Regions from separate parts of the Homo sapiens genome. Here all the other regions are linked to region 1. The links come from fine-mapping of genetic effects on gene expression. A gene starts in region 1. Each other region holds a variant in brackets. All regions are shown on one strand. Distances are between the middles of the regions.

Region 1 (2,500 bases):
CGAACAGGGAGTCTATCTCCAGGGTGGCCTGGGTGCTGGAGGACAGGGTGCGCTTGGCGCGCTCACAGGCTGTGCGCAGCCTGCGCAGGGCACGCTTGTTCCCGCTCAGGTCCTTCCCATGCTTCCGCCGGAATTCTTCCATGAAGTGGTTCACGAGCCGGTTGTCGAAGTCCTCTCCTCCCAGGTGGGTATCTCCAGCAGTGGCTTTCACCTCAAAGACACCAGCGTCAATGGAGAGAACCGACACATCGAAGGTGCCCCCACCCAGGTCAAAAATGAGCACGTTGCGCTCTCCCGCGCCCCGCCGGTCCAGCCCATAGGCGATGGCAGCTGCCGTGGGCTCATTGATGATCCGCAACACGTTGAGCCCCGCGATGGCCCCCGCGTCCTTGGTGGCCTGGCGCTGCGAGTCATTGAAATAGGCGGGCACGGTGATCACTGCGTGCTTCACGGGCTGGCCCAGGTACGCCTCGGCCGTCTCCTTCATCTTGCTCAGCACCATGGACGAGATCTCCTCGGGGTAGAACGTCTTGTCCTCCCCGCGGTAGCATACGCGCACCTTGGGCTTGCCGCCCTCGCTCACCACCCGGAAGGGCCAGTGCTTCATGTCCGACTGCACCGTGGTGTCCGCGAACTTGCGCCCGATCAGCCGCTTGGCATCGAACACGGTGTTGTGGGGGTTCAGGGCCGCCTGGCTCTTGGCCGCGTCCCCGACCAGCCGCTCGGTGTCGGTGAAGGCCACGTAGCTGGGCGTGGTGCGGTTGCCCTGGTCGTTGGCCAGGATCTCCACGCGGCCCTGCTGAAACACGCCCACGCACGAGTAGGTGGTGCCCAGGTCGATGCCCACCGCGAGCTCCCGTGGGGCCTGCATGGCTGAAGCTTCTTGTCGGATGCTGGAGGCCACGGAGGCTGCTGCCGCTCCGCCGTCGAGGGGCGCTCAGCAGTGAGGCTCTCCCTGCGGTTTCTCTGCAGCCAGCCCGGCTCGGATCTGCTCAGCTCCGCTTCCACCGGCTTTTTATCCTTTTGCGCCTCACCCGACCCCCGCCGCCGCGAACTTTCGCGAACCTTTCCGCACCTTCCCGCACCTTCCCGCCCAGTTGAGAGCCTCTCGCCCGCCCGGGCTGACTCAGCCGGGTGGCGCGGCGCGGCGCTGACCCCGGGAGAAGGTTCGGGCAGATCGGGGCATGAGCCGCGAGGCTGGGCGGCTACGCCAGGCCAGCCCGCCTCTGACTCAGGCTGCTGAAAGAAATGCGGGGAAGGTTCTAGCTCCTCCGGGCTGGCTCTGAGGACGCGCGGTTGTGGCAGAGGCTGCAAAAGCAGCAACTTTAGAGGCAAGGTCTCCCCGGGGCTGTGGGAGGTCGGATCCCTGAGGCACACAGGGGCCTGCGGGCTGCCTTGGAGGGCCGCTGAGAGCCCAGCGGCTCAGGAAGGCCGAAGATATGTTACCATGCGAATACAGATATATAAGATATATACACGTATATCTTAAAACAGTTTTATCTTGAACAAAATATTTTCCAAACCGCGATTTAAGACGGTGCCTGGTTCCTTAGTGAATGGCCAGAGATAGTGAGCTTTAAGAGACAATACTGCAGGTCTTTAGCTGACAGTAGCATTGGTGGTTCAGTGGTAGAATTCTCGCCTGCCACGCGGGAGGCCCGGGTTCGATTCCCGGCCAATGCACTTTCATTTTTTTCCGATCCATTTCAATTCTTTTTCTCATCTAGGATTAATCACTCTTGAATAAATTAAACCAGGTGGCTGAAGACTTTACATTCCTCCAGTTTTGTTCTCTCTCCTTTACCAGTCACTTTCCACAAAGGAGATGTGACATTGCACTGTGGCCCTGGGACTCGGGAGAGACCTCGCCACTCAGCCCAAGAGAGAACGCAACACCTGGGAAAGGAGGACGCAGAGTACGGTCGGGATGTCCCTCATGTTCTCCCCACTGTTTGTATCCCCGAGGAGCCTCGTCTCCAGAGGCCCGGTGGAGAGGCACAGTGTGCGTTTTTCTTTATGGCCTAAGTGGGTTCCCAGCTGGAGACCAGGACTCAGGTGGAGAGTAAACTACTGCAGGCTCCAGTCCAACCTACCTCCTAAAGGCTGGAGGACGAGATGGGTTCACTGGGCAGTAAAGTCACACTGGTTTTTATCAGGTTGTGACTTTGTGAATTGAGGCCATTTCCCACTTTCTTCAATCCAGAACATTCCATTCAGATCTGCTGGCGTTCGGATTTCCGCTGAAAGCCAAAACAAGGAGACATTTCTGAGACTTCTGAAGGTTGACAAAATCCTCACACAATTTCCCGTGACCTCCCCGTCGGGGAATCGACCCCCTCTCTCACGCATGACAGGCAGAGATACTCACCACTATAGTAACAAGGATGGCAACTGCAATAGCTGGCAGCTGGAGAGTATGTGGTACAGTCTGGTGTTACAATTTAGCAGTGTGTTAGAGAAACTTAAAAGTTGGCTTCTATTTAACGTTACTTGCCTGATT
Region 2 (2,759 bases), 68 kb before region 1:
TCTGGAAATATCATCAGATTCCTGGTACCAGAAATTCGGACACAGCCCTCTCCTCTGTATCTGGGACTGGTGTTTCTCTTCTCATCTCCAGAGAGGTCATCTTTAGGCCCAGGAGTTAGACTCAGAGCTAACCAAGCGATTTGAGCCCCGGCCATCCTCCCACCGCTGCTCCCTCCCTGGCTCCCAGCTGAACTCGCACAAGCCCCTTCTCGCTGGCTGCAGTCCAGCCGGCAGCCCTGGTGAGCCATCACTGAATCCCTGAGACAACCTGTACTCACCTGGTTTCTCAGGGAGGGTCTCTCCCATTTCCCTGCACTCAGGGTATCCTGAGAGAGCTGGGAGGGGCACACAGGAGGTTAGTAGGATTAGGCGGTGGGGCCTGAGTCCTCAGGACCAAGGACCAGGGCCAGGGTTGGATGGGACCAGCTCAGGCCTTCCCTCTGGCAGATGTTTCCTGTCCTCCCACCCCCAGCTCCCCTGCTCAGGGGCCGCTCCCGCCTGGAAAAGGGCTAGTCCAGAGGCAGAATTCAGCTCACCCATGGGGATGCCCAGGAGTGTCAGAAAGGCCACGCCATGGCATCTGTCTGAGGCTTGCTCTGCCTTTTAAAAACACCCCTGTGTCTCAGTCTCTCTCTCTCTGTTTCTCTGTATTTACTTATCATCAGTAACTGAGGTGTTGGCTATGAACCAATTGAAAAGTGCTTTGTGAGGTGTTAGCGGGATTCTTTCTTTCTTGGTGGCTTGCAGTACCCTCTCTTCTCCCCCTTCGACACCCATATGAGCCCCACCCGGCTTCAATCCCTGCCTTGGCCCAGTGCCTGGAGGGTCCTCCTTCCCTAGCTAAGCGCTGCCCTCACACACCACCTCCTCCAGAATGGCAACAGCCCTGTTTGTGTGCTGTTACTGCCTACCAGGCACTGTGTAAGAGCATCAGCCTCTTTCATCCCCATGGCAACCCTGTGAGGTAAGTCCTGTTAGTGTCCCCATTTTCCACATGAGACAGCTGAGGCACAGAGAGGTGGAGTGACTCACTTGGGTCATATAGTTGGTATGCTGTAGAACTAGATTTGAACCCAGGCAGTCTGGCCCCACTATGTGCACTCCATCACTACACTACACTGCTCTCCCTGAGAACTTCTCCAACTGCGTCAGCCCTTGTTGGGCTATGGAGCCTCCTCTGTACTTCTATCCTAGGCTTTTCATGTCCCTATCATTGCTCTTATCCCATCTTATTATAATGACCCTGTCTTCCTCACAATGCTGAGAACTCCCCAAGGGCAGGGACTGGACTTCTCTTGGCATCACCCACCATGTCTCACGCATTGGCTGACACATAAGCTAGTTTGTTCAAGTCTTGTCAAATGAATGATCTAATAAACGAATGAATGACTATAATACAATACGGGCCTAGATCTGAATGTGTATCTAGCCCAAAGA[G/A]AGGGATTCTGGCAATGTCTGGGGTTAGGGCCTGGGCCAAGTGGAAACTGATAACCAAAGGGACCGGGAGGAGCTACAAACCTGAAATCCGCTTTTTCCTGCAGTAGATCAAGGCCACTACAGCAGCAACAATGGCCGCTACAGCAATCCCAGTGACCACAGCCACAATGATCCCCATCGGTGAAGAGCTGGGAGCTAGGGAAGACAGACATCAGGACAGGCAGTACTCTCCTTGTCCCACCTCCCCCCCATCCAATGCTATGTCCTAGTGCTTGTCACCCGAAGCTCTTCTGTGTCTGAGTCACTCACTTCTGCAGCACTCACTACATCCCCAGCCTCATCTGCACAGGGTTTCTGTGGCTGGACTTATGCCTCCTGCCTACCGAGGTTTCTCCACCGAACTAATAAAGGCACACTGGTGAGCAGGCAGGAGCAGAAGGAAGGGCTCCCCTTAGCCCTCAGGGGCAGTGGGAAGGGTGGGCCCAAAGCCTCGCATAGCTGGAGGCATCATTACTCTATGGAGCACAGCCTTGAACAGTCCATGACGTGCCAGGCTTTCTGGAGTGAATGGCTATAACATGAGCCATGAGAAGAATAAAGGCAAACCTCAGTTCTTACGAATGCCCAGGAGCTTAGGGAACCTCTGCACCAACGAGGGAGCTCTGCTTCGCTGCCGTCCTTAGTCTGGGGCCTGCATTTCAAAGTGGAACAACAGCCTGGTCACCTATCACCTGAGGGCTCCAAGCTCTGGCCCCTACTCCTGCTCATTGGTCAATACTTAGCCAGGCCTCCACACCACTCCTCTTTGCTCCAGTGCCCAATTTTGTGCTGTGGCCTTTCTCAGACCTCCATGTAGGCCCATGTGACCTCAGCCCTTGTCCATCCCCTCTTCTCCCCTCCCTACATCTTGGCAGACTCCTCATACCTTGGACAGTGATGGTCACAGGCTTGGATGAGTACAGCGTGTAGCCTATGTTTCCTGTGCAGTGGTAATCACCACTGTGACTGTGGTTTGCTTGTGGGATGGAGAAGTTGGGATCCGAACGGGAAAATTTCTTGGATTTTCCATTCTGGAAGAATGTGACCTTGACCAGAGGCTTGTCCTTCCAGCTGTGGCACCTCAGCACGATGGTTTCTCCCTCCTGGAACTCCAGGTGAGGGGTCTGGAGCACCAGCCACTCTGAAAGACACAGAAAACCCCAGAGGACCCGGGAGGTCTTGGCTCAGCTCTGAGACCCAGATCTTCCTTACTGGTGGGACATGATGTGCAGAGGGAACAGCTTAGGTCTGAAATCAGACAGTCCTGGACTCTAATGCTGGCT
Region 3 (2,759 bases), 36 kb before region 1:
TCCTTCCCATAACACATCGCCATCACTCTCTTTTTGAAACTTTAAAAACTTGCAAGTCTGGGAGGCATCTAAGCATGTTCTGATGTGAGATAGCACAAGGCAGGGCATTTAAAACTCACTCTTGGCTATAGCATAAAATTTTAGAAAGTTCTTGTATGTCAACAGGTCATATTATTTTAATAACCACAGCCAAAGAAAACAGGTGCAGCTTAAGGTCATCCCACAAAATCTGCTTCAATCCCATGTGCTTTTTTTCCCTTGTTGTCTGTCTATCTCTTCCTGGTTTTGTGAAAGTGTTCTCTCCTTGTCCCATGACTGCCTTTGTATGATGTATCTCGAGGTGTGTCTGTTTCCAGACCTCTCAGTAGATGCCTTGCTCTTCATGCATTTTCTATCTATTTTTAAGACACCATATTTGAAAACCTGGGTGTCTCTCTCAGTTTTTTGTGGGTTTTTGTTTTGTTTTGTTTTTTACTGTCCCAGTAACTGTGTCTTTCTGAGTTTTCTCTCACTGGTTTTCCTCTAAGTCCCATCCCATTTTGTGTCTTTATGTCTCTAACTCTGCCTGTTCTCCTCCCTTTTCTTTTATATTGACAGTTTCCTTTCCTATTTCTTTTCTTCACTTTACTAGACACATAATGGTGAATATTTTGTTTTGTTTTGTTTTGAGACGGGGTATCGCTCTGTTGCCCAGGCTGGAGTGCAGTTGCACGATCACAGTTCACTGCAACCTCCACTTCCCAGGCTCAAGTGATCCTCCCGCCTCAGCCTCCCAAGTAGCTGGGACCACAGGCATGTAGCCCCAGGCCTGGCTTATTTTGAATTTTTTTAAGAGATGGGGTTTTGCCAGGTTGCCCAGACTGGTGTTGAACTCCTGGCCTCAAGCAATGCTCCTGCCTCAGCCTCCCAATGTGCTGGGATTACAGGTATGAGCCACCATGCTGGGACCATGAATATTTTTTATTAAATAATTTTGATATCTATTGTATTTAAAGCTCAGAGCTTACTATATTTTGTTATTAATATTAAAATAAGCAAGTAGAAGCCAGGCAGTAGTGCTGGCTACTCAGGAGGCTGAGGCAGAAGGACTGCTTGAGTCCAGGAGTTTTTTAATCCAGCCTGGCTGACACAGTGAGACCTCATCTCTAAAAAAGAAAGCAAGCAGAATATTTTCTTAAAAGGCAATTATATTCCTTCTTGGCCAGGCCCAGTGGCTCACACCTGTAATCCCAGCACTTTGGGAGGCCGAGATGGGTGGATCACCTGAGGTCAGGAGTTCGAGACCAGCCTGGCCAACATGGCGAAAACCCGTGTCTACTAAAAATACAAAAATTAGCTGGGCATGGGGGCATATGCCTGTAATCCCAGCTACTTGGGAGGCTGAGACAGGAGAATCGCTTGTACCCGGGAGGCAGAGATTGCAGTGAGCCGAGATCATGCCACTGCACTCCAGCCTTGGCGACAGAGTGAGGCTTTGTCTAAAAAAAAAAAGGTATTTTTTGCCTCTCTGTTGGTACCAATTGTTAAATTCTTTGTGGACCACTGATGCTTACCAAAAAAAAAAAAAAA[A/T]AAAGTGGGGGCATCATATTTCCTCTAGTTGACATTAAGACACAGTAATTTAGCCAGAGGAGATCTTAGCAAACATACAGTCCACACTCCACTTTCTCATTTCATGATTGTAGAGACTGAGATCTAGACAATTTAATCGGTGGTCACCCTGGGTGACATAGCTAGGTCTAGAGCTCCTGGTCTCCAGGTCAGCATTTCTTTCTTCTTCATTAAATGTCAAGTTTCCTCCCCTGTTCATTATTAGCTCCTTCCAGAAAGAGAGTTTCTTATCTTTTTAGTAGGTACTCAGTAAATACCAAGGTATTCACTAGGATGCCTTTGGATGAAGGTAACAAGCCCTGACTTAAATTGGCTTAAACAGCAGGGAAATTTACTTGAAATTGTAAGAAATCTGGGTTGGTTGCGTTAGAAGCTCAGTGATGTCACCAAGACCATATTCTATCCCTCCACTCTGTCCTCCTTGGCTATTTGGCATTGACCTCAGACTGGCTGCCTTCAAAATCTTAGGTTTTGCCAGCAGAACCTAGGACAAAATGAGCCCTTGTTCATGTACAGTGGGAGAGAGAGATCATCTCTCCCAAACATGGCACTCCCCTCTACCAGATTGGCCCTATTTAGGACAAAGTTCCGTCTTCTCCCACTTAACCAATAAAAGCCAGGGGAATGCTACACCCTGAGTGGCTTAGATCAGTCAAGATCCACCTCTGCATATGAGGGTGATTCCTGAATAGAATCAAGGTTATATTAGAAGGGAGGGAGAGGGATGGATATCAGGCTAGTACATCATATTCTATTTGTTGAGTTAACTGAGTCATAGCAATTGTTGAGTTGGAAAAAACTCAGAACCTACTGTGGATTCAAGTTCAAGAAATCATTCTTTCCTACATACAACAGCATTGCTCTGTAGCCCTGAGCTAAGAGAGCATCACGAAATACAGTCTTCTTGCTGTTTATAATCGTAAGCAAACTCTTGGACCTGGGAGGGGATGAATGGATAATGTCTGTCTGACTTGCTTCTTTCTAGTTAGTACCAACTACCTCCCTTCTTCCTGTGATTGTTCTTAGAATAGGATAAAAAATCTTCCCTTCCCTAGATCTTACAGTCTCCCCTTCCCCCAGGCCTTTCTATTTTTCAGGATTTTACTCTAATCACACCACCGAAGAATCAAGAAATCTTTAAAGTGTATTAG
Region 4 (2,629 bases), 120 kb before region 1:
ATAGCTAGGTCTAGAGCTCCTGGTCTCCATGTCAGCATTTCTTTCTTCTTCATTAAATGTCAAGTTTCCTCCCCTGTTCATTATTAGCTCCTTCCAGAAAAAGAGTTTCTTATCCTTTTAGTAGGTACTCAGTAAATACCAAGGTATTCACTAGGATGCCTTTGGATGAAGGTAACAAGCCCTGACTTAAATTGGCTTAAACAGCAGGGAAATTTACTTGAAATTGTAAGAAATCTGGGTTGGTTGCGTTAGAAGCTCAGTGATGTCACCAAGACCATATTCTATCCCTCCACTCTGTCCTCCTTGATTTTTTGGCATTGACCTCAGACTGGCTGCCTTCAAAATCTTAGGTTTTGCCAGCAGAACCTAGGACAAAATGAGCCCTTGTTCATGTACAGTGGGAGAGAGAGATCATCTCTCCCAAACATGGCACTCCCCTCTACCAGATTGGCCCTATTTAGGACAAAGTTCCGTCTTCTCCCACTTAACCAATAAAAGCCAGGGGAATGCTACACCCTGAGTGGCTTAGATCAGTCAAGATCCACCTCTGCATATGAGGGTGATTCCTGAATAGAATCAAGGTTATATTAGAAGGGAGGGAGAGGGATGGATATCAGGCTAGTACATCATATTCTATTTGTTGAGTTAACTGAGCATAGCAATTGTTGAGTTGGAAAAAACTCAGAACCTACTGTGGATTCAAGTTCAAGAAATCATTCTTTCCTACATACAACAGCATTGCTCTGTAGCCCTGAGCTAAGAGAGCATCACGAAATACAGTCTTCTTGCTGTTTATAATCGTAAGCAAACTCTTGGACCTGGGAGGGGATGAATGGATAATGTCTGTCTGACTTGCTTCTTTCTAGTTAGTACCAACTACCTCCCTTCTTCCTGTGATTGTTCTTAGAATAGGATAAAAAATTTTCCCTTCCCTAGATCTTACAGTCTCCCCTTCCCCCAGGCCTTTCTATTTTTCAGGATTTTACTCTAATCACACCACCGAAGAATCAAGAAATCTTTAAAGTGTATTAGAGTAGCTAGTTGTGGCAGCACTAAAACACGGCTGCAAATTCTTTGACACTCTCTCCATC[A/C]AGAAATGAGGCCTACATCCTCTACCCTTGAATCTGGGTGGGCTTATAACTTCTGGTGATTAGAATACAGCAGAAAGAGAAGCTGTATAGCTCCTAAATGTTATAAAGTCTTAAGGATAGCTGCCAGCAAGACCTTAGGACAAAATGAGCCCTTGTTCACGTCCAGTGGGAGAGAGAGAGAGAGACCCTCTCTCCCAAATATGGCAATCCTCTCTACCTATAACATTTACATAAATGTTATAGGTTAAACGTTCCACAACAAACTAAGTACTATTTAACATCAAGAGGGAAAAGAGACAGGAGAAAGGGTTAATAAGCCTGTTGATGAGGATCTAAGAAGACCAAAGGAGTCCTGGTCTGGGCCTGGCTACCCGTTGGTCTTGCAAAGAAGAGTCTGAGGTGGCAGAGCCTTCAGTGGCAGATGCCAAATTATCATCATGAGTGACTGCAAGACAGTGTCAGCTAAGATAGCCATTTCAAGCTGCTGAAGGCCTTCTCTTTTAGTCATGGAGTCCTGTGATAAGAACTGAAAGTTGGAAGAGTGTGCTTGTCTGTGGCCTTATTTGGTCGGCTGCAGTCTTTATCATTTTTAATTTGTTTCTTAGAACATTTTATCTTGTTGGCCAAATGCCCTATGAAATATAAAATGGAGTCTTTTTCTAAGATGGAGTTAGTTATGTCAAGGGTCCTTTATACAGTCTTCATCCTTTTTCCTGGCATACAACTCCTAAAATCCTTAGAATCTCCAAAGTGATGTCTTTTGGTGTGCTAATGAGGTAACTGATGGCTGGCAGCTCTTAGGTAGCTTCATAACAGGGGCTGGGCACAAGAAAGATCATGGCAAGGTCAGAGGATTGGGGCTTTCAGCTCCACCCTCCAAACTCCCTCTGGGAAGTGGAGAGGGGCTGAAGGTTGAATTGATCACCAATAGCCAATGATTTAATTAATCATTCCTAAGTAATAAAGCTCCCATAAAAACCCAAAAGGACAGGGTTTGGAGATCCTCCAGAGAGCCGAACACAGAGAGGTTCTTGGAGGGTAGTGCACCAGAGGGCATGGAAGCTCCAAGCCCCTTCCCACAGGTCTTGCCCTATGTACTCTTTACTTGTGTCCTTTGTAATATTCTTTATCACAAACTGATAAATGTAAATGTTTCCCTGAGTACTGAGAGCCACTCTAGCAAATTAATTGAACCCAAGATGCAGGTGGTGGGAACCCCCATTTATAACTGGTTGGTCAAAAGCACAGATAAAACAACCTGGGGCTTCACCCTGCAATATCAGAAGTGTCTTGTGAGACTGAGCCCTTCACTTGTGTCACCTGATGCTATTTCCAGTTAGATAGTGTTGGAATTCAATTGAATTCGAGCAGAAGTCCCAATCCCCAGATTTGTAGTTGTCAGTGACCTCTTAGGAACTGGGCTGCACAGCAGGAAGTGAGGGGCAGGTGGGGAGCAAAGCTTTATCTGTATTTACAGTAGATCCCCATGGCTCACATCACCGCCTGAGCTCCTCCTCCTGTCAGATCAGCTGTGGCAT

Direction of the effects. Positions count from the first base shown, and alleles are read on the strand shown. Sizes are in standard deviations (SD) of each study's normalised expression. Not every link is listed here.
As copies of G replace A in region 2, the expression in neutrophils of the gene that starts at base 990 in region 1 goes down (moderate effect, 0.65 SD a copy in BLUEPRINT).
For the expression in monocytes after interferon gamma of the gene that starts at base 990 in region 1, C is the high allele of the variant in region 4 and A is the other (moderate effect, 0.45 SD a copy in Fairfax 2014).

What was found. PIP is the estimated chance that this variant, and not a neighbour inherited with it, causes the effect. A credible set is the group of variants that fine-mapping cannot tell apart.
Region 2: its variant is the best candidate, but not a certain one, in a credible set for the expression of HSPA6 in neutrophils (BLUEPRINT, PIP 0.57).
Region 3: its variant is the best candidate, but not a certain one, in a credible set for the expression of HSPA6 in whole blood (INTERVAL, PIP 0.68).
Region 4: its variant is the best candidate, but not a certain one, in a credible set for the expression of HSPA6 in monocytes after interferon gamma (Fairfax 2014, PIP 0.58).

What each region holds. Positions count from the first base shown.
Region 1 is chr1:161,523,030-161,525,529 of GRCh38, reverse strand. HSPA6 (heat shock protein family A (Hsp70) member 6) reads right to left here and starts at 990. Exons shown (of 1, transcript NM_002155.5): 1 at 1-990. The coding sequence starts at 871. TRG-GCC2-1 (tRNA-Gly (anticodon GCC) 2-1) reads left to right here and starts at 1,613; the gene lies at 1,613-1,683. It also overlaps a transcript of FCGR2A not described here and the pseudogene TRD-GTC10-1.
Region 2 is chr1:161,591,002-161,593,760 of GRCh38, reverse strand. It overlaps the pseudogene FCGR2C. Among named protein-coding and RNA genes, the nearest start is that of TRL-CAA6-1, 20 kb to the left of the region's middle. RefSeq lists a silencer at 846-1,052. The variant G/A (reference allele first, on the strand shown) is at 1,438.
Region 3 is chr1:161,558,678-161,561,436 of GRCh38, reverse strand. No RefSeq gene overlaps it. Among named protein-coding and RNA genes, the nearest start is that of FCGR3A, 10 kb to the right of the region's middle. The variant A/T (reference allele first, on the strand shown) is at 1,570.
Region 4 is chr1:161,638,430-161,641,058 of GRCh38, reverse strand. No RefSeq gene overlaps it. Among named protein-coding and RNA genes, the nearest start is that of FCGR3B, 8.6 kb to the right of the region's middle. RefSeq lists a silencer at 2,509-2,629. The variant A/C (reference allele first, on the strand shown) is at 1,092.